4 linked regions of the Homo sapiens genome follow. The protein of the gene in region 1 interacts with the protein of each later gene in a pairwise test. Each region holds a gene or a part of one and is shown in the gene's direction. Other genes may lie near its edges.

Evidence for each region.
Region 2: the proteins of ZNF474 (region 1) and CPNE7 interact in binary tests that used the Homo sapiens proteins (3 or more experiments, as listed by UniProt).
Region 3: the proteins of ZNF474 (region 1) and NOXA1 interact in binary tests that used the Homo sapiens proteins (3 or more experiments, as listed by UniProt).
Region 4: the proteins of ZNF474 (region 1) and TSR2 interact in binary tests that used the Homo sapiens proteins (3 or more experiments, as listed by UniProt).

What each region holds. Positions count from the first base shown.
Region 1 is NC_000005.10:122,125,536-122,132,545, forward strand, and holds the start of ZNF474 (zinc finger protein 474), read left to right. Parts: upstream 1-4,010; 5' UTR 4,011-4,148; exon of another isoform or gene 4,149-4,306; intron 4,307-7,010.
Region 2 is NC_000016.10:89,585,333-89,593,202, forward strand, and holds part of CPNE7 (copine-7), read left to right. Parts: intron 1-131; coding exon 132-221; intron 222-354; coding exon 355-453; intron 454-1,337; coding exon 1,338-1,424; intron 1,425-1,710; coding exon 1,711-1,770; intron 1,771-2,223; coding exon of another isoform or gene 2,224-2,262; exon of another isoform or gene 2,263-3,342; coding exon 3,343-3,476; intron 3,477-4,564; coding exon 4,565-4,619; intron 4,620-5,674; coding exon 5,675-5,726; intron 5,727-5,794; coding exon 5,795-5,928; intron 5,929-6,865; coding exon of another isoform or gene 6,866-6,868; exon of another isoform or gene 6,869-7,870. UniProt on the Homo sapiens protein: Calcium-dependent phospholipid-binding protein that may play a role in calcium-mediated intracellular processes.
Region 3 is NC_000009.12:137,418,507-137,426,706, forward strand, and holds the start of NOXA1 (NADPH oxidase activator 1), read left to right. Parts: upstream 1-4,886; 5' UTR 4,887-5,023; coding exon 5,024-5,200; intron 5,201-7,739; exon of another isoform or gene 7,740-7,741; coding exon 7,742-7,824; exon of another isoform or gene 7,825-8,200.
Region 4 is NC_000023.11:54,435,347-54,443,403, forward strand, and holds the start of TSR2 (pre-rRNA-processing protein TSR2 homolog), read left to right. Parts: upstream 1-5,057; 5' UTR 5,058-5,075; coding exon 5,076-5,156; intron 5,157-5,343; coding exon 5,344-5,434; exon of another isoform or gene 5,435-5,545; intron 5,546-8,053; coding exon 8,054-8,057. UniProt on the Homo sapiens protein: May be involved in 20S pre-rRNA processing.

The sequences.
Region 1 (7,010 bases):
TCAGTGTTATATATAATGTTTCTTCAGTGTTTCTTCAAGCCTCCTGTTTCGGAGACATGAAGGTCTAGGTTTTAAATGTTTACTCAGTCTGGGCAAGTCATAGAAAATATTATTTATTGGGTATGGGAATATGGCAGCAAGATCTAGCAGAAGGCAGCGAAGGGAAGCCATTTGGGCACCAGAAAGATACACATGTCCATCCCAGATTTGCTTTGGAATAGCCTTGTCAATGGGGCAAGTTGCTTAATGCTCTTGAGCCTCAGTTTTCTAATCTGTCAAACAAGGATACTAATGCCTACCTTGTAGGATGGTTAAAAGATTTGAGATAACGGATGTCAGGTGGCTGGAACTTGCTGTTTCGGAGTTAGGCGATAAGAATGAAGTAAACAATAATTAGGTAGACAAGAACAAGGCACTCAGTGCACCTATTTTGCCAGACTTCACAAACATCCTGTTTGGATCCCTGCTGCTGCCATTGCAATTTTTTTTTCTCACAGAATGTAGTCTCTGCCAAGTTTAAATAAACTCCAAAGGATTATTGGTAGCTTGCAAAGTAAGATTTGGGCTTTGCATCAGTGAAGAGTCTTGAGGATAGGCAGAGATACCAACAAGGAGAAGCATTTCTCCTGCTCCATGAAAATGTGATTCATTCCTTCAATGAAAAAGTCAGGGGCTTGTGCAGGCACAACAGCTGTGGTTTTATGAAGGGAAAATAATCCAGAATTCCTTGTGGTGGGGCTGCTCCCACAAGGGGTCAGATCTGGATTATTGCTGGAGGCTGGCATCATCCCACAGTGACACAAGCATGATTGGATATCACATAACTTGAAATAACTGGCAATTGTTTTAGGTGAGAAAAGCTCAAGCAAGAGCAAACCAGACCAGCTCAAGTAAAGGCTTCAGTGTCTTTGATCTGGGTCTGACTTGAATGCCTGGAGTCAGAACAGAAGAAGGAACACGGTTATCTTTGAAGCTCACACTGGTTGCTGGTTGCCCACTCAACAGATGTGAGCAGTTTAGTTGTCACCATAAATCAAGGGCTCCCCCACAATGTTATAAATAGGGATGGGTAAATATTTTGGATTCATCAACCTCCAAGTATGCCTCAGATGTTTTGGGTTCAACTAAACAGAATACATCATGCAAAACACATACCCTCCTTGATTTTTTAGGACCGTATGTGATTTATGGAAAATAGAATCCATATGTTTCTGCTTCATTTACACTTAAATCTTCAAAAGGTTGTGTGTTGTAAGAGCTTTTTGATGTCGAAGATGCCTCTGCGCATGCTTAAAAAAAAAAAAAAATACGAGCAGCTTAAAAGTTTTGGTCGCTCGGAAAGACCAGAGAGACACAGAGACAGGGAGAAGGAGACAGAGACAGAGCACCCAGGAACGCCTGTTTTGCCAAGATGAAATACATTTGAACACCAGGAAGTTCAATTCTGACTGAAACTATAAACCCATGAATTAAAAATGAGTCCAGAATTTGGGAAGAAACAAAGGCTCCACTCCAGCCAGTTTTAGAAGCAGCTTCGATGAATACAGAAAAGCAGCTGGCAACTCAGCCACAGCACCAGGGAAGAGACGGCCGTGAGTGCACCATCAGCTACAGCTAACAAAGCCTGCAAGCTCTGTTATTCTTGGGCCTCCTAAGAGTTGCTCCAGCCAGGATAGAGACTCTGCCCTGCTTTAGCTCAGAAATATCCACTCTCGTGATGTTTTCCTGAGGTTGTCCTGTCATAGGCCAACACTTCCTGTCTCTTCTGCCATCTGGCCCAAATAGCCAGCCACTGGACTGAATATTGGGTGTGCATTTGGGATGATGTTTATTTATTGGGCACTTTCTTTAGAGAAAGATCACATTTAGTTCACAATAAGGCCGATAAAACATGCAGTTTGTGTAAAGTGAAAAGTGTGTTAACTAGGGGCCTACAGGTCAGTAAAAGGCAACAGGTAAAACAGGGTTTTCTTGCCGCCATCTCAACATTTACTCACTGATATTATATCAGCTCTATGTCATTGTATGCATGTATTATTATTTGTATATGTATCGTATGATTTCAGAAGCATCTTAATTAGAAATATTTTATATCATAAATTAGATATCTAGAATAGTTAGAGCGTTATTGCAAGTTAGGATGTGAAACGTTACTGTCCCTTGGGATCTCTAGACTGTGTGGCCTGAAGAGTCACTTCAGCAGAATTAAGAGTCCTGTGAATTACCTCCATATCCCAATTACATTATCTGGGGACAAGGAGCAGGGCTGGGGAATATTAGAGGTCAAGTTTTTGTTCTTTTTTTTTTTTTTTTTGCTAACCAGTAAGGAACATTCAGTAAAAATGTTCCTTAATCTCACCACTCATAGGTAGCCACTGTTAACACTGGGATGTATATTCTTTGAGTTAATTGTGTGTTTGTGTGCACATGAGCACACACAAAGAATTTGATGAGATTATACTATTTATTCTGTTTTGTAGCTTCTCTTTTTCATTTAGCAATATATTGTAAACTTTTTCCCAGGTCAATAAACTGTTGCCTCATAAGCTTTAATGCTTGCAGAATATTTAATTGTAGAATTGTACTACAATTATCTTAATATCTCAGAGTATTTTGAAATACGAATCTTGAAAACACTGCTTCAGATATATTTTTAAATACTGGCCTTAGTTTTTAAAATATTTTCTATGTTTTAGGACATGTTAGAAAAATAGATTAAGCATAGCTTCTACATCTTGTGGTTGCTTGCCTTTTAGACCAAAACATAGAACATGCTTTGAGAGCCATGGAGACTATCCATCTTCCCTGTTTTAGAGGAGACCAAGCTCTTCTTCTTCTTCTTTTTTTTTTTTTTTTTTTTTTTTTTTGAGATGGAGTTTCGCTCTTGTTGCTCAGGCTGGAGTGCAACGGCGCTATCTTGGCTCACTGCAACCTACACCTCTCGAGTTCAAGCGATTATCCTGCCTCAGCCTCCCAAGTAGCTCGGATTACAGGTGTGTGCCACCATGCCCGGCTAATTTTTGTATTGTTAGTACAGACTGGGTTTCACCATGTTGACCACGCTGGTCTTGAACTCCTGACCTCAGGTGATCCACCCGCCTCAGCTTCCCAAAGTGTTGGGATTACAGGTGTGAGCCACTGCGACTGGCCCAAGCTCTTCTATATAGATGGTATTAGTATTAGTCAGGGTTCTCTAGAGGGACAGAACTAATAGAATAGATGTGTATATGATGGGAAGTTTATTAAAATGTATTGACTCACATGATCACAGGGTAAAGTTCCACAATAGGCCATCTGCAAGCTGAGGAGTAGGGAAGCCCAAAACCTCAAAAGTAGGGAAGCCGACAGTGCAGCCTTCAGTCTGTGTCCAAAGGCCTGAGAGCCCCTGGCAAACCACTGGTGTAAGTCCGAGAGTCCAAAAGCTGAAGACCTGGAGTCCAATGCTCTAAGGCAGGAAGCATCCAGCATGGGAGAAAGCTGAAGACCAGAAGACTCAGCAAGTCAAGTCCTTCCACATTTTCCTGCTTTATTCTGGCCACACTGGCAGCTGATTAGATGGTGCCCACCCAGATTGAGGGTGGGTCTGCCTTTCCCAGTCCACTGACTGGAATGTTAATCTCCTTTGGCAACACCCTCACAGACACACCCAGGAACAATACTTTGCATCCTTCAATCCAATCAAGTTGACACTCAATATTAACCGTTACAGTATTTTTTAAAGTCCCTAGAAAAGATCAATAAGATAATCAGTAAATATTGTTTTCTTTTCTTCTTTAAAATAAAACGCTGTGTTTCTACATCAAGAAGAGCCTGTGACTTAAATTTATCTGTCCCTGTTGGTTGCTCAGTCCATCGGTAAAGTTCCTGGAGTCAATTTAAAAGAAAGCTGAAATCCATACCTACTTTGCTCTGTTTCCCATCAGTTACTAGAGAACTCAGTCCCGTCCCTTTTGTTGACAGGTTGCCAGGATACATCCAGGCAACAAAGACTGCGGTTCCTGTTACTCAGCAGCCTCAAAAACTCACACCAGCTCCTGCAAGGAATGTGAATCTTGGAGCTCCCAGCTATTCTGTTCCTGTTTCTGTCAGCTCCTTCCCTGAAAACTCAGAGGTGCTCAGCATGCCATGCTAAAAGGCAAAATAAAAAGGTAAAGAACAAATGTCACAAGGTGAGGCTCTCGCAGGGTGTGTGCATTCTCTGTTGTCTGGTAGGTCTTAAACCTTTCAACTAATAACAACTGCTTCTCTTAGATATTCTTGTTCTCTTCCATTGGCTTCTCACCAGTATTCAGTAAATATTTCCTTGCTATTGGGAAGAAATACAAATGACGATAATAATAATAATTAGTTCTTAAGTGAAAAATCTCAAGTATTACTAAACAAAACAATAAATGTCATTTTACTTCTTTGGATGCTGACAATGATGAGTGAACTATGGATTAGATGTTCTAATACCTAAAAAATAATAAAATTGTATTTAAAAGAATGATTTTTAAAATAACTTTCTTCAAAGAAAAGTAGATGAAGTCAGGTTTTAACATTAATTCAGAACTATATGTTTATTAGCCAGATTATCCATGAAAGAAAAGGGGTATTAAAGGCTATAATTACTCAGTTGTCTTGGCTTTTTTTTTAATTATTTGAGATAAAATCAACATGGAGTAAATTGTAACCAATCTTGAGTTCTTAAATTCAAGTTTCTAAAATCAATGAGTTTAACAGGTATATACAACCATGTCATGGTCACCTCAGTCAGGGCACGGGACATTTATTTCACCCTGGAATGTTTCCTCACATCCTTTCCAGCCAATCTTCCCTCCACAGGGGGCCACTGTTTTGATTTCTGTCCTCAAAGAATAGTTGGCCATTCATGAACTTTATATGAATAGAATGATACCATATATATTATATTGTCAGACTGACGTCTCTGGCTCAGCAGAATGTTTTTTCAAGCATTTCAATGTGGGTTTTTAAGTCAGTAGTACAATTCTTTTTAAAGGTAAGTATAATTGCATTATATGCTTATTTTACATTTGTTTATTACATTGATTGGTAGTTTGTTTGTTTCTAGTTTGGTCCTCTTATAGCTAAAGCAGCTATAAAGATTCTTCCACAAAGTATTTTTCTCCTAATTTTATTTTTTATGTCTAACTTTTTTCCAGCTTTATTGAGGTATGACTGACAAATAAAAATCACATGTATTTGGGGTTTCTCATGAAATGTGTTGACATATGTAGACATTGTGAAATGATTACCACAATCAAGCTAATTGAAGTATTCATCATATCACATAGTTACCTTTTTTTGGCTGTGGTGAGAATGCTTGAGATCTACTATCTTAACACATTTCAATTATTATTAATTATAATAATTCTTAATTATAATCACAATGCTGTACATTAGGTTTCTAGCATTTACTCATCTTATAGCTGAAGGTTTGTACCCTTTGCCTATCTTCCCTTCGTCTCATCCTCCACTCATGGTAACCATTATTGCACTCAACAGGTAGGTATATGAAGATGCTCACCATCACTAATCATTAGGGAAATGCAAATAAAAATCACAAGGAGATATTACCATACATTTGTGAGAATGGCTGTTAAAAAGATAAAAGATAACAAGTGTTGGTGAGAATGTGGAGAAATGGGAACCCTTATACACTGTTTGTGGGATTGTAATTTAATACAGCCATTATGGATTATGGAAAACAATATGGAAGTTCCTCAAAAAGTTAAAAGGAGAACTACCATCTGATCTAGCAATCCCACTGCTGGGTATATATCCAAAGAAAATGAAATTAGTATATTAAAGAGATATCTACACTTCCTTGTTCATTGCAGCATTATTAACAATGGTCCATATGTGGTAACAAATTATCTATCAACAGATAAATGGATAAAGAAAATGTGGTATAAACATACAATAGAATATTATTGAACCTTAAAAAAGAAGAAAATACTGCTATTTTCAACAACATGGGTGAAACTTGAGGACATTATACTAAGTGAAATAAGCCAGATAAGGAAAGACAAACACTATGTGATCTCACTTATATGTGGGGAAAAAAAAAGAAGCCTGCACAAGTCTTATTAGATATATGTTTTTATTTATTCTGGATTCGGACCCAGGAGTGAAACTAATGAGTGATAGGGTAGATATTTGTAATAAATATGGAATAATATGTCACAGTGGTCATAATTTGCATATTCCTGATGACTAATGGAGTACTTTTCATGAACTTCTTGGAGATTTGTATCTTTTTAAAAATTATCTATTCATACCTTTTACCCATTTAACATTTTTTCTTTTTAATGTCTTTTTCATTGATGTATAACTCACATATAATAAAATGCACCCATTTTAAGTACAAAATTTGATGAGTTTTGACAAATGATTATATCCATGAACCAACAAAGACGTAAATATAAGAAAACGTCCATTAACCTTTGTAGTCAATTTTCCTTTCATGCACCTACCCACCAAACAATAACTGATATACTTTCTGTCACTACAGATTAGCTTTGCTTATTCATAGAAATGGAATAATTAAGTACCTATACTTCTTTAGCATTTGACTTTTTCGGCAGCACATTATTCAAAGGGATCCATGTAGTGTATATTAGTAGTTTGTTCATTTGTATTGTGAAACAATATTCTATTGTATGAATATGCTATAATTTTGTATTCATTTATCCATTGATGTATATTTATGTTATTTCCAGTTTTTCACTACTATGAGTAAAGCTACTGTAAACATTTGTAAATGACTTTTTGTGGACATATACTTTCATTTTTTTAGGTAATTATTTAAAATGTCAATACCATTGGGTATTTTAGAATTTAACTTTATAAAGTTAAATTTTTAGATAATCCAATTTTTAAATATATGTCTTGCAAACAGTTCTTCCCAATCTATGTCTTGCCTTTTAATTTTCTTAATTTTTTTAATGTGCAGAAGTTTATAATTAAGAGAAAGTATAATTTATTATGTTTTCTTTTATACTTAGTTC
Region 2 (7,870 bases), on another chromosome or scaffold:
GCTGTCTGGGGTGATGCAGGGGCAGGGCCAGCTGTGCCCGCCTCACAGCTGCTCTTCCACCCAGGTCTCTATCCCCCCCAAGGATCCCAGGGCCCTGGGCCTCCCCTGAGCCAGCCCCTCCCGGCCCACAGGTGGTGAAGAACAACCTGAACCCGGTGTGGGAGGCCTTCAAAGTCTCTCTGAGTTCCCTCTGCAGCTGCGAGGAGACAAGGCCTCTAAAGGTGGGGGACGGGATGGACCAAGGGGGCAGTGAGGGGGTGGCCTGGATGTGGGCTGCGATGGAGACACCTGGGCTCGGGTGGGAGGGTCCTGGGGCCCCCAGACAGCAGTGCTGAGGAGGACTGGGCTCCCCAGTGCCTGGTCTGGGATTACGACTCTCGAGGAAAGCACGACTTCATCGGAGAATTCTCTACCACCTTCGAGGAGATGCAGAAGGCCTTTGAGGAGGGGCAGGTGAGCAGGACGGGGTAGGGGGTCCTCCAGGGAGGGTCAGGTGGGGGTGGAGGGGGGCCTTCGGGGAGGGGTAGGTGAGCAGGACTGGGGGGGTACCTCCAGGAAGTGTCAGGTGAGGAGGTGGGGGGTGGGGTAGGGGCCTCCGTGGAGGGGCATGTGGGTGGGCACCTCTGGGGAGGAGCAGGTTGGGGGGGCCTTTGGGGAGGTTCAGGTGAGGGGGGCCTCCAGGGAGGGGCAGTTAGCAGGGGGAGGGGGCATTCAGGGAGGGGCAGGTGAGGGGGGCCTCTGGGGAGGGGCAGGTGAGTCGGGGGCACACCTGGGCTACGCCTGTGTTGGCCCTGCCACAGAGGCTGTGAAACCCTGTCCCACTGTCCTGATGGGGTTGTGGGGAGTGGTGACAATGACTTGTTATAACCAGAGAAGGCTGAGGATGGTGGACCCTGGTGCTGGCTCCTGAGGGGTCATAGCAGGGGTGGCCCCCATCAGGTTCAGCTGGACATTTCAGGCACCATCTGGGTCTGGGCACAGGGGTGGTGGGAGGTGGGGCCAAGGGGTGCCCTCCCCTGTGTCTGCCCAGCCCACAGCAGCCGGGTGAGGGTGCAGTGGGGAGGCCACCCTGGGCCCTGCTTCCTCCCCCGTCCCTGGGCCTCAGTGTCCTTGGGCTTAATGACAGGGCCATGCCGGGTGGGGGATGCAACTCCCATCCCTCTTCATTCCCGTATGACCCACTCTGCCCCTTCCTGCTGCCCTGCAGCAGTGCCCTCCCCTCCCCTCCCCACCACGGGGCCCTCTGCCGTCGCTATTGGGGATGGTCTTGGGTAGGGTCTCCCTGGTAGGTGTTCAGAGCCACCACTCTGGGGGGCCTCTGCTTGTTCCTGCCCCAGGCCCAGTGGGACTGTGTGAACCCCAAATACAAGCAGAAGAGACGCAGTTATAAGAACTCAGGAGTGGTCGTCCTGGCTGACCTCAAGGTGAGAGGTGGCTGTGCCCGAAGCCTCCCCACCCACAAGAGGGGCTTCCGCTGCCTCCCTCTGATTGTTGGATGGACCCTCAACCAGAGGCCTGGTGGGCCCCAGCACGTCTGGGGAGGGGCTGAGAGACGGGGAAGGGCGAGGTTGGGGAGAGAGGATGGGGGAGAGGAGAGGAGGGTGGCACCCCAGAGGGACTGGGCTGCCTGCGGGAGGCAGGCCTGGATCCCAGCTGGCACTGGCCTCAGTGTCCCTGGCGGGGGTGGACGCTGACTCCGCCGGCCGGAAGTTCCACAGGGTGTACTCCTTCCTGGACTATATCATGGGCGGCTGCCAGATCCACTTCACCGTGAGTCCATGGCCCCGCCCCATGCCGCCCCCTCAGTCCGTGGCCCCGCCCCGCCCCGCCCCCTCAGTCCGTGGCCCCGCCCCTCCCCGCCCCCTCAGTCTGTGGCCCCGCCCATCCCCGCCCCCTCAGTCCGTGGCCCCGCCCCTCCCGCCCCCTCAGTCTGTGGCCCCGCCCATCCCCGCCCCCTCAGTCTGTGGCCCCGCCCATCCCCGCCCCCTCAGTCCGTGGCCCCGCCCCCGCCCCCGCCCCCGCCCCGCTCCCGAGGGGTCCCAGCCTGGCGGGTGAAAGGGCACTGGCGGTTCCCCGTGAGCCGATGTCTCCATGCGCGGCTCCTGGGGGTCCTCCCTTTTGCGCAGGCGAGGAAACGGGCTTGGGGTTCAGGAAGCAGCCCCAAGCCCGCCTTGGGAGGTGACATCACCAGGGCTTACCTTCCACAAACACATTTAACAACAGACAAAACGTGAACGAGGAGAAACTGGAGTGAGCGTTTGAGTGAACCAGCCACAGTCTCTACGTGTCATCCAAGGAGCCCGGCACAGACCCCGTGTCACCCCCATGTCACCCGCAGACCCCGCGTCACCCATAGATACGCACACCCCGTGTCACCCCCATAGCACCCCCGTGTCACCCACAGATACACGGCCCCCGTGTCACCCGCGTGTCACCCACAGAAACACGGCCCCCGTGTCACCCACAGATACACGGCCCCCCGTGTCACCCGCGTGTCACCCACAGATACACGGCCCCCGTGTTACCCACAGATACACGGCCCCCCGTGTCACCCGCGTGTCACCCACAGATACACGGCCCCCGTGTCACCCGCGTGTCACCCACAGATACACGGCCCCCCGTGTTACCCACAGATACACGGCCCCCGTGTCACCCACAGATACACGGCCCCCCGTGTTACCCACAGATACACGGCCCCCCGTGTCACCCGCGTGTCACCCACAGATACACGGCCCCCCGTGTTACCCACAGATACACGGCCCCCGTGTCACCCACAGATACACGGCCCCCGTGTCACCCGCGTGTCACCCACAGATACACGGCCCCCGTGTCACCCGCGTGTCACCCACAGATACACGGCCCCCGTGTCACCCGCGTGTCACCCACAGATACACGGCCCCCGTGTCACCCGCGTGTTATTTGCAGATGCGCTGGTTCGTGTTTTGTTGAACGAGCCCCAGAATGGCTTTGGGAGAAGCCAGCAAGTGGGAAACGTGGGGGGACCCAGACCAGGCTTGGTCCACTTAGGCCCTGCCGGGGAGGGTGGTAGAGGGGTTGGGCGGCCACTAAGAAGGATGGGCGGGGCCCCCACAAGGCCAGGGTGATCCTGGTGGGGTGTCCTCCCGGAGATCCAGGGAGCCTAGGGGCTGGCAGGTTTTGAGGAGACCTCTCCTGGCCCTGTGTAGCAGGTGGGTCAGCCCCAACAGCAGCCCCCCAGCCCTACCCACCTACGCGACCCCTGACCCTGAGTCCTGGCCACTCTGGGCGTGGTTTCTCTACCTGTCAGGAGCGGGTTCGGGGAGCCCCGGCCCAGCACAGCTCCTGGCTCCCGGCCCACTGCAGGTGGCCATTGACTTCACCGCCTCCAATGGAGACCCGCGGAACAGCTGCTCCCTGCACTACATCAACCCCTACCAGCCGAACGAGTACCTGAAGGCACTGGTGTCCGTGGGCGAGATCTGCCAGGACTATGACAGGTGCGCCCACCACCTTCCCCTCACCCCCTGGTCTCCAGGTCAGCTATGACAGGTGCGCCTGGCCGTCTTCCCCCTCACCCCCCTGGTCTCCAGGTCAGCTATGACAGGTGCACCCGGCCGGTTTTCCCTCACCCCCCTGGGCTCCAGGTCAGGCCTCGGGGCACCATGAGGTGGGCACTGTGAGTTTGTCAGACTGTGAGGGGCCGGGCGCGGTAGCTCATGCCTGTAATCCCAGCATTTTGGGAGGCCGAGGCGGGTGGATCACCTGAGGTCAGGAGTTTGAGACCAGCCTGGCCAACATGGTGAAACCCCATCTCTACTGAAAATACAAAAATTAGCTGGGCGTGGTGGCAGATGCCTGTAATCCCAGCTACTCAGGAGGCTGAGGCAGGAGAATCACTGGAACCCGGGAGGCGGAGGTTACAGTGAGTCAAGATCACACCTTTGTACTCAAGCCTGGGTGACAGAGCAAGACTCCGTCTCAAAAAAAAGAGACTCTGCGAGGAAGGGCTGGGTAGCCCTACTGGAGGCTGCCGCATAGACTCTGCACATGGTCCTGGGGGGACGTCTGTGTCCCGCTTTGCCAGAATAGCAAACCGAAGTCACAGAGGCTTGGGGCTCACCCGCGTATGCTTTACCAGGGAGGGCCCGGCACAAAACCCTGTGCTCTGAGCTTCTTACCACAACACAGACCCCTGGCCTGGGGCTTGGGAGAGGATGCCCTGAGCTCCCTACCCTACAGACCTCTCTTTCTGGGTTGGTGAGGGCCACAGTGGGTTCCTTGGCCCCACAGGACCCCTCCCGTGGTCTGAGAGCCCCCGGGGAGGCGTCTGCAGGGGGACAGCATGTACACAAACGTGGAGTTGGGAGGCAGGCTCGCGGGCGGCAGGACCGTGTCCCCTTGCACACAGGCCTGTGCCTCTGCTGCCCTGAGCCTCGGTTCCCCACCTCTGGCAGGTGCTTACTGCCGTGGTACCAGGCCTGGGCACCCCCAGTCTTTTGGGCGCCAGTCATGTCTCCCTAGAAGTGGCCCCTGTTGCAGCCACAAGAGGTCAGGGCCTCCTGGTGACCTCCTGCCTCTCTTCCAGTGACAAGAGGTTTTCCGCTTTGGGGTTTGGAGCCCGGATCCCTCCCAAGTATGAGGTAGGAGAGCCCAGAACCTGAGACCTCAGAGCTGTGCCCTTCTCGTGCCCTCCCAGGCAGAGGACGGCCTGGCCCAGGGAGCCCTGGCTGCCTGCTGGGAACCGGAGACTGTAGGATGGGATTGGGGTGCAAAGCGGGAACCCCAGCCTTCTAGCCAGAGAGGCTGGCCTTTGGCCTCCTAGGACTTGTTAGCTTGAGGGGTGTCTGGAGGCCAACTCCGTGTTCCTTCAGGAGATAGGGAAGGACGTTAGTGTGGAATCCTCTATTGCACATAACAATTCAGCTAGCTTCGGCCAGGCGTGGTGGCTCACGCCTGTAATCCCAGCACTTTGGGAGGCCGAGGCGGGCCGATTACCTGAGGTCAGGAGTTCCAGACCAGCCTGGCCATCATGGTGAAACCCCATCTCTACCAAAAATACAAAAATTAGCTGGGCGTGGTGGCACATGCTTGTAATCCCAGCTACTCGGGAGGCTGAAGCAAGAGAATTGCTTGAACCCGGGAGGCAGAGGTTGCACTGAGCTGAGATCGCACCACTGCAGTCCAGCCTGGCCTGTAGAGCAAGACTCTGTTTTAAAAAAGAAAAAAGAAAACAACAAAAAACTTCAACTGGCTTCAGCAGAAAAAATGGTGTGTGGGGATTTATTGGCTAATGTAAGCCTCAGGCACTGCTGGATCCAGGGAGGTCTGCCTCCCTCTCTGTTTCATGACTCTGCAGAACATGGTCACCCATGGGTTTGGCTTCCCCTAGAAACTCCAAGCCTACCTCTCTCAGTAGGTGGGGGACATGGGGGCCAGGTCGGGGGAGCAGCTGACTGGGGGACATGGGGGCCGGGGACGGGGGGAGCAGCTGACTGGGGGACATGGGGGCCGGGGACGGGGGGAGCAGCTGACCGAGCCCTCTTTAGTAGGCGGGGGACATGAGGGCGGGGACGGGGGGAGCAGCTGACTGGGGGACATGGGGGCTGGGGACGGGGGGAGCAGCTGACCGAGGGACATGGGGCCAGTGGGGTGTGTTGCAACGAGCAGCTGACTGAGCCCTCTTGTTCCCACCCAGGTGTCCCATGACTTTGCCATCAATTTCAACCCTGAGGACGATGAGTGTGAAGGTAGGAGCTCGAGGCAGGCCTGGGGAGGGGAGTGCAGGGGGGCCGGGCTCACCCCCTGCCCCCCACAGGCATCCAGGGCGTGGTGGAGGCCTACCAGAACTGCCTGCCCAGGGTCCAGCTCTACGGCCCCACCAACGTGGCGCCCATCATCTCCAAGGTGGCACGCGTGGCGGCGGCCGAGGAGAGCACCGGGAAAGCCTCTGTAGGTGCCCGGGGGGTGTGGTGCATGCTTGGTGTGGGGTCGGCTGTGTGTGCACCAGCGCGTGGACGTCAGGGAGGCACCTGGCAGAGGGAACAGCCAGCGCAGAGGCCCCCAGGCAGGACAGAGCTCAGGAGGGCGGGGGCCCAGCTGGTTGACTACGTCTCCCTCAAAGGTGCAGGTGTCTCGGGCACAGGGCTGTCCATCGCCTCACACGGTCACGGCCATGGCTGCAGCGAGGCTGCCCCTCTCCTCTTCCTCTGGGCACCACAAGGCCGCGCACATGTCTACTGTTTGGCTGTGTGTGTATCGTCATTTTGTTTACATGTGTCTTTCCTTTGCACAAATGATACGGTGCCGAGAACTGCACTGGATTCTACTCTGCCACCGTGTGGCCCTGTATGTGTCTCTGGGGCCACAGCCAGCCTGCTGCTTTCTTTTCTTTTCTTTTGTTTTTTGTGAGACAGAGTCTCACTCTGTCACCCAGGCTGGAGTGCAGTGATGTGATCCCAGCTCACTGCAACCTCTGCTTCCCGGGGTTCACGCCATTCTCCTGCCTCAGCCTCCCAAGGAGCTGGGACTACAGGCGCCCGCCACCACTTCTGGCTAATTTTTGTATTTTTAGTAGAGACGGGGTTTCACCCTGTTGGCCAAGCTGGTCTCAAACTCCTGACCTCATGATCCACCCGCCTCGGCCTCCCAAAGTGCTGGGATTACAGGCGTGAGCCACCGTGCCCGGCATTCTTTTTTTTGTTGTTTTTTTTTTTTGAGACGGAGTCTCGCTCTGTCACCCAGGCTGGAAGTGTAGTGGCGCAATCTCCGCTCACTGCAACCTCCCCCTCCCAGGTTCGCGCCATTCTCCTGCCTCAGCCTCCTAAGTAGCTGGGACTACAGGCGCCCACCATCATGCCCGGCTAATTTTTTTTTTTTGTATTTTTAGTAGAGACGGGGTTTCACCGTGTTAGCGAGGATGGTCTCGATCTCCTGACCTCGTGATCCACCCGCCTCGGCCTCCCAAAGTGCTGGGATTACAGGTGTGAGCCGCCGCGCCCGGCCCAAAATAATTTTAAACTCACCAAAAAGTTACAAGAGCTCTGAGGTCCTGCAACCCGTGAGGCCAACAGCTGCTCACACATTGCGCTCCTGCTTCACGTCTGTGTAGTTGTTGTATTTGTATGTTTTCTTTTTCAATTTTTTTTTTTTTTTTTGAGATAGAGTCCTGCTCTGTCACCCAAGCTGTAGTGGTGCAATCTCGGCTCACTGCAAGCTCCACCCTCCGAGTTCAAGCAATTCTCCTGCCTCAGCCTCCCGAGTAGCTGGGATTACAGGCTCCCGCCACCACGCCCGGCTAATTTTTTGTATTTTTAGTAGAGACGGGGTTTCACAGTCTTGGCCAGGCTGGTCTTAAACTCCTGACCTTGTGATCCACCCGCCTCGGCCTCCCAAAGTGCTGGGATTACAGGAGTGAGCCACCGCGCCCAGCCCAAATTTTTTTTATTGTGATAAAATATGCACAGTTTAAAATTTACCATTGTAACCATTTTTTTCTTTTCTTTTTTTTTTTTTTTTTTTGAGATGGAGTTTTACTCTTGTCACCCAGGCTGGAGTGCAGTGACGTGATCTCGGCTCACTGCAAGCTCCGCCTCCCGGGTTCACGCCATTCTCCTGACTCAGCCTCCTGAGTAGCTGGGAGTACAGGCGCCCGCCACCATACCCGGCTAATTTTTATATTTTTGTAGAGATGGGGTTTCACTGTCTTGGCCAGGCTGGTCTCAAACTCCTGACCTCAAGTGATCTGCCTGCCTCAGCCTCCCAAAGTGCTGGGATGGGATTACAGGTGTGAGCCGCCGCACCTGGCCTGTAACCATTTTATTGTATCCAGTTCAGAGGCACGAGGTACATTCATGATGATCAAACATCACCCGTCTACTTACATCTTCAAGCC
Region 3 (8,200 bases), on another chromosome or scaffold:
TTTAGGAGATGCATCTCTGTAAAACATGATGAAATGGTTTCCATCTACACATACAGTTCAAAATTACTCGCTGAGTTTTTAACGGAAAATTAGGGTCACGAAGTTAACACTGTAATTAATATATGTAACTGAAACTACTAAATATAAGAGAAACAATTCTGTACGTGAGATGTATAAGAAAAGCAGAGTTTGTTTTTCTTTTGAACAACATTTCGTGTAGTAATAAGAGATTGTAAAATATTTTTATCTTCTGAGTAAACAGAAAAAAAAAAAGGGGAAAGAGGGAGAGACATTCTGTTTGCCTCACGCTGTCTTTAGTAGGTCTATTGATTGCTTGGGAAACTAAGTCTCCTCTCTGTCATAGTAAAGGTTTTTGGTTTGGGAAATCTCTGAATTACCAATTTGATTAAATGAATGGCTTATTTTACAGTGACCTGTGGTCCTATTTTGAGATTGTTTTAAGCCTCTGATATTTGACTTCCCAAAACCAAATTTCAAGTCCTAACATTAAGGGTTTTTTTCACCTGAACTAACTTGGATATAACAAATAGGAACCCCGAGAAGTCCAAGGGAGATGTACGAGGCTTATGTGGTATGTTAAAATCATACAGGAAGCATTGTCAAATGTGGAATGCTGTTGGAGTTATATTGGTATAAATGTATTATTAACATATGTTCCAAAATTGTATGAGATTCCTAAAAATTCTGACATGTCTTGGTATATGTTATCAGTCGTGATTACGATTATATGTTAAACTGTTTTAACCTCAGAAGTAACCAAATTCCCTGCCAATCGCGTCTTCACCCATGGCTACTCTAAGTCTTTTGTCATCTGCAGAAAATTACTGTTTTACTTTGATTCTTCTCAAAATGCAGTTTAAGGCCGGGCACGGTGGCTCATGCCTGTAATCCCAACACTTCGGGAGGCTGAGGCGGGTGGATCACTTGAGGTCAGGAGTTCGAAACCAGCCAGGCCAATGTGGTAAAACCCCGTTTCTACTAAAAATACAAAATTAGCTGGGCATGGTGGCTCATGCCTGTAATCCCAGTTACTTGGGAGGCTGAGACAGGAGAATCGCTTGAACCTGGGAGGCGGAGGTTGCAGTGAGCCAAGATCGCACCACTACACTCCAGCCTGGGCAACAGAGCGAGACTCCATCTCAAAATAAATAAATAAATAAAATAAAATAAGGTACAGTCCAAAATTTGCATTTTCTTCAAGGAAATTCATGGAAAGGACATTGACAAGTATACAGACTTCCGATAACCTGGGAGATCACACCAGTAGACCAGATAAAAACTTCCAGGACTCTTATTTAAAAGCTGATGCATTCATGAGGATTGTTAACCCAACATCATACAGAAAAAAGCGGCCGGGCGCGGTGGCTCATGCCTGTAATCCCAGCACTTTGGGAGGCCAAGGCGGGCGGATCACGAGGTCAGGAGATCGAGACCATCCTGGCTAATACGGTGAAACCCCATCTCTACTAAAAATACAAAAAAATTAGCCGGGCATGGTGGCAGGTGCCTGTAGTCCCAGCTACTCGGGAGGCTGAGGCTGGTGAATGGCGTGAACCCGGGAGGCGGAGCTGGCAGTGAGCCGAGATTGTACCACTGCACTCCAGCCTGGGCGACAGAGGGAGACTCCGCCTAAAAAAAAAACAAAAAAAACCCCAGCAAATTACATAGAACTGAACTGATAGAGGCCTGAAATGCTTTTTATGATTTTTTGTTGTTATCGAAACCTTGCTGACTCTTTTTATATTTTGTTTTCCAGAGTCAGAAAACCTTTTTCTTTTTGAGCTATTTATAGCTATAGCAATTGAGTGACATATACTTTTGTGAGCAAAACTGAAATATTTGTCTTTTTCTCTACCTGATTTCTCAAAAATCTGGAAGCGATTCATGAGTATTCTTATTTTATGGCAATGTAGTTCTTTGCATGAGTTCAGTAAGAATCTGTTGTCCTTGTAACAGGACACAATTGGAGACCCTGGTTATTCTACCAAGGCTTGGACTGGGATGACGTATTTTTGGATATGACGAGACTGCTTTGAGGAATCGAGGTTCGCTTTATAGAGCCAATAAAAAGCCCCTTGGGATGACTGGACTGGTGCCCTGTTTACATAGTTCCCTTAAAAGGTTCTTGGCCTTGAGGTAAGGAAAGAATGTCACTTTCCGACAGATCCAGGAACTTCAAGATAGTTTGGGACCTGGAGGACAGACATTCACCCCCCCCCCCAAATTCATACAGGTATTATACATACACTGTGATGGGGAGCCACTGGCTTGGCTTCCTAGACATGGGAAGTGTTTGTTTTGTTTAGAGACAGGGTCTCGCTCTGTCACCCAGGCTGGAGTGCAGTGGTGCGATCATAGCTCACTGCAGCCTCAATCTCCTGGACTCAAGCGATCCTCCCATTTCAGCCTCCTGAGTAGCTGGGACTACAGGTGAGCACCACTATGCCCAGGTAATTTTTAAATTTTTTGTGGAGACAGGGACCTCGCTATGTTGCCCAGGTTGGTCTCAAACTCCTGGGCTCAATGAATCCTCCCACCTTGGCCTCCCAAAGTGCTGGGATTACAGGCATGAGCCACCATGCCCAGCCCTCAAGTGGCTTTTAAAGGTCTATTCTGACCCTCTTGTAGTTCATAAGCATGATGATTGCCTCATGTGTAGGGTCTGTCTCCTTCAAACGCTGTTATGACGCCAGCACATTACCTGTCTGATGTGGGGAAAAAAAGTCTGAAATTCCTTATGGCAAAGTTCCAGCCAGTTTAGAAAGGAGCCTATATGGCCAATCACCACTGTTGTACTTTAGGCAAATAATCAGGCCAAATATAATCCTAAAATTTATTTTACAAGTAAATTGGTCTTACCAAGATTTATCTTTGGTAGAAATGGGGAAGTAGAGAAAAATTATGTTTCAGAGAAAAACTACAGCATACCTGTTACTGGATTCTAGCCCTGATCATTGTATTTTTTATTTTCCTACAATCTGGACTAAATCCTGAACAATCTTCTGGCTACAAGTCTCAAAGAAGAACCTGGCTGGGCAGAGGTTCACACCTATAACCCCAGCACTTTGGGAGGCCCAGATGAGAGGATCACTTGGGCTCAGGAGTTCGAGACTAGCCTGGGCAAGGTGTCAAGACCTAGTCTCTACCAAAAAAATTTAAAATTAGCCGGTCCTGGTGGCAAACACCTGTATTCCCAGGTACTCAGGAGGCTAAGACAAGAGGATCATTTAAGCCCAAGAGTTCAAGGCTGCGATGAGTGGGAATCGTGCCTCTGCACTCCAGCATGGGTGACAGAGCAAGACCCCATTTCTAAGTAAACAAATAAATAAAAAGAAAGAAGAACATGGATTTTAGTTTCTTCATGTTTTTAGTTGTCTCCCTAATGGAACAGGTTTGTTTTTTTCATCCTGGCATACAAATTGGTTATAGTCCTATGTGTTACTTCTGAGAAAATTAAAATTAATGGTGTTTCTAAAAACTAGAGATGATTCAACAGGTGACAGCAGTTGTATAAATTAATGACTTCACTGAGACCTCATGTTTGCCACCCTGTAATGCCATTCCAATTCAGTTTGTGGTGTTCTTAAAAAAAAAAAAAAAAAAAAAACTCCCTGAAATGTCTCCTCCTTCCCTGCTTGGCATGGGACAGGACTATGTGGGAATGAGCCTTCCCAGCAAGAGGGGACACTCTGACCCTCAGATTTTGATAATCAATGCTTTCAAGAAGAAAGATTTTGATCAAAAGGGGGGCAAATGAGAAAGAAAAAAATCATTTATCTGAGGAATGTAAAGCCCTTTTAAACTGTGGGCCCAGAAAGCTTGATGTTAAGTGCCAGAAAGCATTTCAAATGAAACCGCAGCCCCTCACTACCCCTCGAGCCAAGTAACTATCCACTGATGACACCAAGCCGTGGTCAATCGCGAACCAATGCCATTTCTACAAGCCAGTGAGCTCCTGGGCAACGTTCGAAACCACCTGCTCTCCGATGGGCTCTGTTTTCTTTAAAAACCTGAGCCTCTGTTTTGTTCTCCGTTGCACCTGGTGACCCAGGCCGCCCTCGACCTCTGTGCCTGAATAAACCCACCGGGCACCACATTCTGACCCTTTTAATTATTTTAGGTTGACAACTAATACAGGACTCAGCGCCGGTGGACAGGAAGCCAGGGCCCCTGCAGGGAGGCGCCCGTCCCTTCTCCCGGGGAGGGCAGGGCGGGCGCGCGCGCGTCCCACCGGGAGCGCCTCCTCCTCGGCGAGGGAGCGAAGGGCCTCCGGGTCCTGTGATGTCCGTGCTCGGAAGGCGCGGAGGAGGGCAGGCCCTGCGGGACAGGGCGGCGGGGTCGCCGGGGTCGGCTCAGCTCCCCGCGGCGTCCGGCTGCTCGGCGGCCTCCGGAGCGGGGCCCTGCGGGAGAACGCACCTTCCCCGCCCCATCGGGGCCTCAGTTTCCCCACCCCGGGAGAGCCGGCGGCCCGCCCCCGGCTCACTCCCAGCTACGGCCCTCACCTCAGGACGCGCACCCGGCCCGGCCCCGCTCTGCCCCCGGCGCCCAGACCGCCCACCTGGCCCGCGCGGCCCGGGGTCGCTCACCTGCGGGGCCGGGACCGCCCCACACCGTCCACGCCCGGCGCGGAACCTTGGCCCGACCGCAGCCGCTGGCCCGGAGGGCTTTATCCGGCGCACCAAGGCCAGCGCGGGCGGGGCGAGGAAGCCGGGCGCACAAAGCTCCCGGCGGAAGTCCGGCCGGGGCGGGGGCCGAATGGGAGGTGGGCGAGGCCTGAGGGTCTGGAGTGGGCGTAGCCGTTTCTGGCGGGGGCGTGGCCTTACCGGGGAGGGGCGGGCGCCTGCCGCCAGGGGGCGCCGCGGGGCAGCGGGGTTGCACCTGGCGCTTGGCGCCCGCACCTCTGCCCGCCTCGGAGACCCCGCAGCCCCGCGCCGCCGCCTGGCCCCGGCCCCGGCCCCTCCGCGGGATCCTGGCCCCTCCTCGAGCGCCGCCACCGGCCGCCATGGCCTCTCTGGGGGACCTGGTGCGCGCCTGGCACCTGGGCGCGCAGGCTGTGGATCGTGGGGACTGGGCCCGCGCCTTGCACCTCTTCTCGGGCGTCCCGGCGCCGCCCGCCAGGCTGTGCTTCAACGCGGGCTGCGTGCACCTGCTGGCCGGGGACCCCGAGGCCGCGCTGCGGGTGAGCGGGGCGTGGGGAGGCCGGTGCGGGCGACGCCTCCGCCTCGAGCCCCTGGGGAGGGCCCAGCGCCCCTCCCCGACCGTCACGGGGTCGCCCTGCCGCCCCCGACCCAGCGAACGCCCCGGCAGGTGGGAGCCGAGCAGGGGGGCCGCACCTGAGCTAAGCGAGGCCGCGCTGGGGGGCGCGGCGGTCACCGGGAGAGGCCGGGGCCCGAGGGTGACTCACACCGGGAAGGGGGAAGCTGCTGGGCTGGGTCAGGCCCGAGGGACCGCCCTGCCCTAAGGGGAAAGCGTTGCGCCTGTGGTCATGGCCGGGAGACCGGGTCAGTCTCCTCCTCAGAGCCCTCAGCCCTCCCCCAGCCCACTCCCCGAAACAGCCAGGAGTCCAGGGTGCCAGGGTGCAGCGGCCGAGGCCCTGCACGGAGCCCGGTGCCCTTCTCGTGCCCCCTCGCGTTCCGGGGCCGCCTGTTCCTGCGCATCCCAAACGCCAGCGCTGCCCACCCCCGCTCAGTCCCAAGCACCCCGCAGAAGCAGGCAGGTGCCCACGGTTACTGAAGGCTCGGTGACAGCAGTGATTTAAAGGAGAGGGAACTGCGCGCTGTGGGAGGGTCTCCACGCCCCTGACTGGCAAAATATCCCCCTTGGAGGAGACTGGGCAAAGCGCATGAGACCCCCCTCTCTTGTGTCTTAAAGCTGCGTACAAATTTACAATCACCTCCATAATGATTTCATTTTTTTGTTTGTTTCAAAGATGGAGTCTCGTTCTGTCACCCAGGCTGAATGGAGTGCCGTGGCCCAATCTTGGCTCACTGCAACCTCTGCCTCCCGGGTTCAAGCAATTCTCCTGCCTCAGCCTCCCTAGTTGCTGGGAGTACAGGCGCCCACTACCACGCCTGGCTAATTTAGTATTTTTAGTAGAAACGGGTTTCACCATGTTGGTCAGGCTGGTCTTGAACTCCTGACCTCAGGTGATCCACCCTCCTCGGCCACCCATAGTGGTGGGATTACACATGTGAGCCACCTTGTCCGGCCCACAATGATTTCATTTTAAAATGTTATCCAAGAAAGGGAATGTAATCTTTAGACACCAGGTGGTTCAGCAACAAATCCTATGTCCGGGGCTAACCCAGTCACTTGTGCTCTTGTGCCTGGTTTCACTACAGAGAGGGGACGCAGTGAAAGTCATACGACTAACCCACAGCATATGCATGTTAGGAATATGGGAACTTAGGAAAGCAGATGGAACAGCTATGATTCATAAAGCCGATCACGTGAGGGGCAGCCCAGGGTGCAGAGGGTGTCGCTGGAACTGCTGTCTCTTGTTAGGAGCCTTGCGTGACGTTTGGGGCAGACAGGTGGGTTCTGCTGGCCCTGAGCCGCCACCCCACATCAGGGCTGCGTGCCTGTGCTCAGCCGCCACACTTCACACCTGTGTGAACTTGGTTCAACGACAAGCCCCCACTCAGCCAGATTTGTGAAAGAGACCGTAGCACCCTTCCTGTCACACACATTTAACTGATGGCCACGGTCCCTGTTCAGAACCTTCTGTGTCCTCCTGAGTCTGGTTTAAGGAAGAGCTGTGCTTTACACACAGATAAACACATGAAGACGTGTGTTGTTCTTTCTGATTCTAATAGATTTCTAGGGTGTCATTTTGCATGAACTATCAAAAAAGGATTTTTATTTTATTTATTTTTTGAGACGGAATCTCGCTCTGTCTTGCAGGCTGGAGTGCAGTGGTGCGATCTTGGCTCACTGCAACCTCTACCTCCCGGGTTCAAGCGATTCTCCTGCCTCAACCTCCCGAGTAGCTGGGACTACAGGCGCGTGCCGCCATGCCCAGCTAATTTTTGTATTTTTAGTAGAGATGGGGTTTCACCATGTTGGCCAGGCTGGTCTCAAACTCCTGACCTCAGGTGATCCGCCCACCTCAGCTTCCCAACATGCTAGGATTACAGGCGTGAGCTAACATGCCCGGCCTGTAATGCAGTTCTTTAGCTGCTGACTCTGGGATCTGGACTGCGTTATCTCGTCTCCAGTATGTGACAGCCAAGGTTGCCTGAGGTCAGGAGTTTGAGAATGTCTTGAACCCAGAGGCGGAGGCAGCAGTGAGCCAAGATCGAGCCACTGCACTCCAGCCTGGGTGACAGAGCGAGACCCCGTCTCAAAAAAAAAAAAAAGGATTTTTAAAAGACAAAAATCTTGCATAACCCCACTCCCCAGAGGTAACTATTATTAACATACTGGAACACTTTTTTCTGGCCTCTGTCCTTGTGCTCATGGTAAACACATTGGTTTTAGCAGCACCTCAGTGGGCTCTGCGCCTTGGACGGGTTGGGGTTGGGTGGGCTGTGGCAACCTGAGTGGCGACAGCCCTGCCCAGGCAGGGGCTCCGAAGGTTCCTGGACAGGAGCAGGAGGGGCTGTGGGGGGTCCCCAGGGGCTGACGGAATTCCGTGGCCCTGTCACCCATCACGCTGTATCTGTGATGCTGCGTGACCAGGTTACAGACCTTGGCATCCCGTGGGCATTTTTGTCCCCAGGCATTTGACCAAGCCGTGACCAAGGACACCTGCATGGCGGTTGGCTTCTTCCAGCGAGGAGTGGCCAACTTCCAGCTGGCAAGGTGAGTACAGGGGTGCCTTGTTCCTTCTCTGACGGCCCTTTGTCTCCCTGCAGAGTCCACTCCTGCACCTCCTCCTCCTCCCTCTCCATCCACTCCCTCCTCTTGCCCACCCCCTCCTCCATGGTTCCTGGCTCCAGGGAAACCTGAGACTGTGGCCCTCGCCTCTGCTGAGCGCCACCCTTGGACACAGGTCGTGGGGTCCTCACTGCTTACCTGGGCTCTCTGCACCATGTCCCTTCCTAAAGGAGGAATGAGGGAAAGGAGACCATCGGGACTGCAGACCAGGCCATGCCTCGGCCTCTCTGCTAGACACTCACAGGCCCCATCCCAGGAGGGCAGGCTCTGTGGGGAAGTGGATCACAGTCCCGAGAGCCTC
Region 4 (8,057 bases), on another chromosome or scaffold:
GCTACGGAGGAGGCTATGCCCCTGAGGTTCTCTCTCAGTCTGGAACTGCTCTTATTATCATCACACACCATGTTGCTTCCTGCCTCTGTGTATTTGCACACATTTTTCCCCTGCACAGAAGGCTCTTTCCTCCTTTCAGTAACACCTTCCACCCCCATACACACACACTCCCCCATCACCCAGCAAAATTCTACTCAAACTTTAAGAATCAGCTCACGTGTCATCTCCTCCGAGAGGCCTGCCACAGCCCCCAGGGCTGGGTCAGGGACCCTCTGCTGAACTCCCATGAGTCCCTGTGCTCCTTTCTCCCTGGGCATTGCACAGAGATAGATTTATCGTAGAACAAATCAATCTTAAGCATCAGGGCCCCACACTTGCACAGGCCACTTCCAGGTCTCTGGTTATTGAGCCTGGTCTATTTGAAGAATGTTTAAGATTTGTCGCTGTGCCAAGAGAAGTTAAAATAACCTGAAATCTTACAGCTCACATGTAAAAGAAACTAGAAATTTTCCCAAGTTTGACAAAAATCTTAAAATGTACATTACTAATAATGAGTTGTGAAATTGAAACTTTTCTAAAATACTAATAATAAAAAATTTTACTCAACTGAATTGAAATCAATTGAATTCTTTGTGTTCTCTCTAGAAAATATAAAATACTTGTCATATGAAGAGTTCTATAAACTCTTTGATATCAAAAAATGTAGAAAAATTAGTAGAGAGGTGAGTCATGTAATTAATAAGAATATTTTATTTTGGCAGGGCGTGGTGGCTCATGCCTGTAATCCCAGCACTTTGGGATGCTGAGGCAGGCGGCTCACCTGAGGTCAGGAGTTTGAGACCAGCCTGGCCAACATGGTGAAACCTTGCATCTACAAAACAAAAACAAAACAACAAAGTAATATTTTATTTTTCTGGGTTAGAAGATGTTTGTGACATTTGTCAGTTTTTAAAAATTTGTAATTTGTAAATTAGATTTCTAATTTTAAGGAAATACTTTCATCAATAAATCAACAAATAAGTAAAGTGTACAATTCAATGGCTTTTAGTATAGTTTCTTCTGATTTGCTCCTTGGCTTTCTCCTTAGCTTTCTCACTGTGTGTTCACATAGTTGTCCCTGTGTGTACACCTCTCTGGTGTCCCTCTTTGCCTGTGTCCTCATCTCCTCTTATTATTATATTTTGTTGTTTTTTGTTTTTGAGACAGGGCTTGTTCTGTCACTCATGCTGGAGTGCAGTGGTACAATCATGGCTCACGGCAGCCTCAACCTCCTGGACTCAAGTGATCCTCCCTCCTCAGTCTCCTGAGTAGCTGGGACTACAGCCATCACACTCAGCTAATTAAAAAAAAAATTTTTTTGTAGAGATGGGGGGTCTTGCTTTGTTGCCCAGGATGGTCTCGAACTCCTGGCCTCAAGTGATCTGAGCCATTGCACCGAGTTCTAATCTCCCCTTCTTTATAAGGACATCAGTCATAACGGATTAGGGCCCACCCATGCAACCTCATTTTATCTTAATTACCTTTTTAAAGGCTCTATCTCCCAATACAGTCACATTCTGAGGTACTGGGGGTTAGGGTTTCTACATATGAATTTGGGGGGTGGTGGATACAATTTAGCTCATAACAGCAACCATTACCTCGTCTAATTTTTAGAACATTTTCGACACCCCCAAAAGTAGCCCTGAAGCCATTTAGAAGTCACACTCTATTCTTTCCCCATCCAAGCCCTGGGCAACCATTCATGTATTTTCTGTCTCTATAGATTTACCTATTCTGTATATTTCATATAAATGGTATCATACAATATGTGGTCTTTTTTGACTGGTCGGTAATTATACGTCCTCTTTCGTTCCTGATTTCAGTAATTTGAGTCTTCTTTCTTTTATTTCTTCCTCAGTCTAGCTAAGGGTTTGTAAATTTTGTTGATCTTTTCAAATAACTGACTTGGCCAGTTGCATTTGCTCACACCTGTAATCCCAGCATTTTGAGAGGCGAGGCAGGTGGATCGCTTGAAACCAGGAGTTCAAGACCAGCCTGGGCAACAAAGTGAGACACCCCCTCCCAACACACACACACACACACACACACACACACACACACACACACACAACCACACACACACACACACACACACACTAGCCAGGCATGGTGGCCTATTCCTGTAGTCCCAGCTAATCAGGAGGCAGAGGCAGGAGGATCCTTTGAGCCCAGGAGTTTGAGGCTGCAGTGAGCAATGTTTGTGCCACTGCATTCCAGCCTGGGCAACAAAAAAAGACTTCATCTCTGAAAAAAAAATAACCGCCCAGGTCCGGTGGCTCACGCCTGTAATCCAAACACTTGGGAAGGCTGAGGTGGGCAGCTCACTTGAGGTCAGGAGTTCAAGACCAGCCTGGCCAACATGGTGAAACCCTGTCTCTACTAAAAATACAAAAATTAACGGGGCATGGTGGCATATGCCTGTAATCCCAGCTACTCTGGAGGCTGAGGCAGGAGACTCCTTTGAACCTGGGAGGCAGAGGTTGTAGTGAGCTGAGATTGCACCACTGCACTTCAGCCTGGGTGACAGCACCAGACTCCATCTCAAAACAAACAAACAAACAAACAAAAAACAACAACTGACTTTTGGCTTCACTGTTTTTTCTTTTCTCTATTGTTTTTCAATTCTCTATTTCATTTATTTCTGTTCTATTATTTATTATTTCCTTTCTTATGCTTGCCTTGGGATTACTTTGCTCTTCTTTTTCTGGTTTTGTGAAGTGGAAGTGTAGGTTATTAATTTGATATCATTCTTTCATTTTTTATTTTTTTGAGACAGGGTCTTGCTCTGTCCCCCATGCTGGAGTGCAGTGGCACAATCACGGCTCACTGCAGCCTTGAGCTCCCAGGCTCAAGCAATCCTCCCACCTCAGCCTCCTGAGTGGCTGGTACTACACGCATATGCCACTATGCCCATCTAATTTTGTTTGTTCGTTTGTTTGTTTGAGACAGAGTCTCACTGTGTCGCCCAGGCTGGAGTGCAGTGGAGTGATCTCAGCTCACTGCAACCTCTGCCTACCGGGTTCAAGCGATTCTCGTGCTTCAGCCTCCCAAGTAGCTGGGATTACAGGTGTGTGTCACCATGCCTGGCTAACTTTTGCATTTTTAGTAGAGACAGGGTTTGTTCATATTGACCATGCTGGTCTCAAACTCCTGACCTCAGGTGATCTGCCCACCCAAAGTGCGGGAATTATAGGTGTGAGCCACCATGCCTGGCCTAGTTTTCAAATTTATTTATTTATTTAGTTTGAGACAGAGTCTCACTCTGTTTCCCAGGCTGGAGTGCAATGGCACCATCTCGGCTCACTGTAACCTCCGCCTCCCGGGTTCAAGCCATTCTCCTGCCTCAGCCTCCCAAGTAGCTGGGATTACAGGTGCTTGCCACCAGACCTGGCTAATTTTTGTATTTTTAGTAGAGACGGGGTTTCACCATCTTGGCCAGGCTGGTCTCGAACTCCTGACCTCAAGTGATCTGCCTGCCTTGGCCTCCCAAAGTGCTGTGATTACAAGCGTGAGCCACCACACCTGGCCTAATTTTTAAAATTGTTTTTAGAGATGGGGTCTCACTATGTTGCCCAGGCTGGTCTTGAACTCCTGAGCTCAAGCCATCCTCCCGCATCAACCTCCCAAAGTGCTATGATTACAGGCATGAGCCACCATGTCCGGCTCTTCTTTTTAGATATGCATGTTTACAGCTAAAGATTTCCCTCTAAGTTTTGCTTTAGCTGCATCTCATGCATTTTTTTATGTTTTTGTTTTCATTCATTTAAAAGTGTTTTCTAATTTGCTTTGTGATTTTTTTCTTTGACCCATTTATTGCTTAGGAGTGTGTTAATTTCCATATATTTGTGAATTTTGTAAGTTTCTTTTTACTGATTTTTAACTTCTTTCCATTGTGGTCAGACAACATACTTTGTATGTTCAATCCTGTTAAATCTATGGAGGCCTACTGTATGGCCTAGTGTATGATCTGTTCTGGAGAATGTTCTTGTGTACTTCAGAAAAACATGTACAGTTATCCCTGGGTATCCGTGGGAGACTGGTTCCACGACCTCCGGAGGATACCAAAATTCATAGATGCTCAAGTCCCTGATATAAAATGGCATAGTATTTGCGTATAACCTATGAATATTCTACTGTATACTTTAAATCATTTCCAGATGTGACTCACGCCTATAATCCCAGCAATTTGGGAGGCTGAGGCAAGTGGATTAAACCCAGGAGTTCGAGACCAGCCTGGGCAACATGGCGAAACCCTGTCTCTACTAAAAACACAAAAATTAGCTGGGAGTGGTGGTGGGCACCTGTAATCTCAGGTACTCGGGAGGCTGAGGCACGAGAATTGCTTGAAACCAGGAGACGGAGGTTGCAGTCAGCCGAGATGGCGCCACTGCACTCCAGCCTGGGCCACAGAGTGACACTCGGTCTCAAAAAAATAGATAAATAAATAATTTCCAGGTTACTTATAATGCCTAATAAAGTGTAAATGCTATGTATATAGCTGTTATACTGTACTGTTTAGGAGAATAATGTCAAGAAAAAAAGTATACACATGTTCAATGCAGATGCAATTTTTTCCTGAATATTTTCCATCTGAGGTTAGTTGAATTCACGGACGTGGACTGCCCCCCATAGGGAGAGCTGATTGTATTTTACTGTTGTTGGTTGCAGTATTCTATACAGATGTTAGGATGCTTTTTTTAAATGCAGATTTTTAAGGCTATACTCACTGAGTCCTCTGCCCCAGGGCCTGGAATCTGTATCTGTAATAAGTTCCCCACATATTTCCTCCGCAGTACCCACGGATCCGGAAACCATGGCCCCACACGTCCTTCAGGTCTGGTGTCCTTTGATTTAAGTGAGTAACTCTGGTGGTGTCATCGATCGCTCTGACAGATTTTTCTTTTGCTCTAGTCTTGCTGCCAGGTCTGCGGAAAAGAGAATCCTGTGTTCTCAGGCTCGGCTTGCGTCTCGTTCTGCCTGGGCCGAGCTACAGAGGGATTGGGCCGCCGGGACGTCACGTGGACTGGGGCCGGATAATGGCGGGCGCTGCAGAAGATGCGCGAGCTCTTTTCCGGGCTGGGGTCTGCGCGGCCCTGGAGGCCTGGCCGGCCTTGCAGGTCAGTGGGGCCAGGGCCAGGGCAAGGTCAAGGTTAGGGCCCGGGGCAGAACAGGAGTTGGTTGGGCTAGGTGCCTGAGGCTTGGCTAGGCGGCATAAGAGGAGTTGGCTGGGCGGCGTAAGCGGCCTCCAGGCTACTCCAGGTCTGCTCCCAAGCTGACTTGGTGGGCTTGGACCTGTGTTTACAGATCGCTGTGGAGAATGGCTTCGGGGGTGTGCACAGCCAGGAGAAGGCCAAGTGGCTGGGGGGTGCAGTGGAGGATTACTTCATGCGCAATGGTGAGTGAATGTGAGGCGCCGCGACCCGCCTGTGTGGGGGTGTGGAGAGGAGGAGCCCCATCCCGCAGAGCCTGCATTTCCTCTCGAGCAGTTGTGGATTGGTACCTAAAGGTGAGGTGGAATGAATTCAGCTTTTAGAATCAGAATCCTGGATTCCAGTGCTTTACGGGCTGTACCACTGACTCGTGGGATTACTCTGGACAAGGCAGTTTACCTCCCTGAGACTCAGTTTCCTAGTTTCTAAAATGCGTATAAAAGTATCCACCAGAGCGCTGTACAGTAGAAATATTATGCTAGTCACATATAATTTAAAATTTTTTAGTAGCCACTTTAATAAAGCAAAAAGCAGATGAAATCAATGTTAGTAAACTCGGTGTGTATGAAATATTTCAACATGTAGTCAGTATAAAACATTGAGATATTTTACATTTTTTAGTATTAAGTTTTCAAAATCTGGTATTTTACAGTTTTAGCACATTTCGATTTGGCCTAGCCATATTTCAAGTGCTCAGTAACCACCTGTGGCTGTTTGGACAGCAAAGATCTACACTGTAGGCTCGTCTTGAGGGATATACAAGAACAAGAGGCCCAGTAGAGGGCCTGTTGCATAGTATGGTTTTTAAAAAAATCTTCATTCAATTTCTAGCTTTGGAGATGACATTAGGCAGAGTCATCTCTCTCAAGAAAGTATACTATCCATTGAGGATCCACACACGTAAATAGTTACAACATTGATAGATTTTCTGATAAAGAGGAGCTCAGGGTGCATGGGGTAACAGGATGGGGAGACAGCTTCTTAGTGGAGGTGGTGAATTGGGCTGGGTCTTAGTGAGAAGGAGTTAACTAGGTGGGGGAAGCAGAGAGAGCAACACTCAAGTTCTGTGGCATGAGGGTATAATGTGTTATATTTGGAAAGTAGCAGGGAGCTCAGTATTGGAGTATGGGCGTGTGTGCGTGGGGGGTGGAGGAGTGGTAGAGAATGAAGCTGGGGTGTGGGAAGCCCCCTTGAAAAGCATAAGACATGGAAGCCCTTATGTGCCTTTGATTTTATCATTTAGGCCAGTGTTTGCCAAAATTCATGCTAACTAGTTCTGTTAGATGTTCAGTGAAGAAGCTTCTCCAGTTACCTTATGTAAGAAAAACTCTTGTTCTGCTCCCACTGAAAAGTCTTAACACTCATGAACATATTAAAGGCTTGGGTAAGAATAAGAACCACTAAAAAACCTGTTTGCTTTTGTTTCTCATTAGCTTTCTATGGATAGTGTCCCTTAAGACCCAGCAGAACAGATATTTCTCAAAGGCAAACTGTGAAACACTGCAGTGGCTGGTAAAAATTCGTGGGCAGGTTCTAGGGTGAGAAATAGGATGGGATTTGCTGGCTAGAAAGTTCAGGAAATAATCAGTATGAAGCATAACCTGGAGAGGGAAAGACTGATGAGAACGCTGTTTTTGTCTAGAAACTGATGAGGCCTGAAGTAGGACAGTGGCAACAGGCATGGAAAAGAAGGGGTGGAATAGGGCCTTGGAGATTGGTTGGCTGTAGACAGGGAGGGAAAAAGAGGCAAGTTCCTGGTTTGAGTTGATGGGTGGATTAGGTGTCTTTTCTCGGAGTAGAGGAACCCTGGAGGATGCGAAGCAGGTTTAAAGAGTAAGGTGATGAGTCTGGCTTTAGATATGGAAGATCTGCGGCATCTGTGAAACGTCCAGGCACAGAGTAGTCTCAGTTGGAGATAAATTCGGGGGATATTAAGTTTGAGTGGTAGGGAAAGCCAAGAGTGTGGATGAGCTCTCCCAGAGAAAGCACATAGAGGGGAGAGGGCTAGGAGCTTTGTGGGAGACTTTCTTGAGTTACTGTCTAATTCAGAAAAAGTAGAGCATAGGCCCATAGGTAACTGAAGCCCAGAGAGGAAGGTGGCTCAGTCAGAGTCACACAGTAGGATGTCAGTGTCAAGGCTATGATGATTTCATCATTGGAATTACTATGTCCATTTCTTCTTAACTATCCCATTGGTCTGTGGCTTCTTTTATCAGTGGAACCACAGTTGTGAAGGTTCTCTTCACTTCAAAAACTTCAGCTTTTGCATGATAGAAATTAACATGGATCATGGATCTTCACTGTGCTAGGCATTGTGTTGGATGGTTCCTCATAACAGACCTTTGAGGAGGCCACCATTAGCCCCACTTTACAGATGAGAAAACTGAGGCTCAGAAAGAAGTAGCTTGCTCAAGGTCTCATAGAGGGGAGGCTAGTTAGAATAGTCCAGATGAAAGAGGGTGAGTGTAGGGCTGGGAGTTGTGGAAAGAGGCCTTGGTAGGATGGAAGAGATTGGAAATGAGGTATTAATATTTAGTGGTTCTTTAAAAAATTATGTTAAAACCTGGAATGCAGAACACTTTAGCAGATAAAAGGCAGGATGGAAGAGATTGGAAATGAGGTATTTTTAGTGGTTCTTAAAAAATTGTTAAAACCTGGAATGCAGAACACTTTAGCAGATAAAAGGCTCACTGTGCCTTTACCCACCCAGTTGCAGATCCACCAAGTAGATATTGAAGAGCAGTGGGCAGGGGTGATGAAGTTGGCTGGTCTTTGACCCAAGGGCCCTGTCCTTTTCTACTTAGCTGA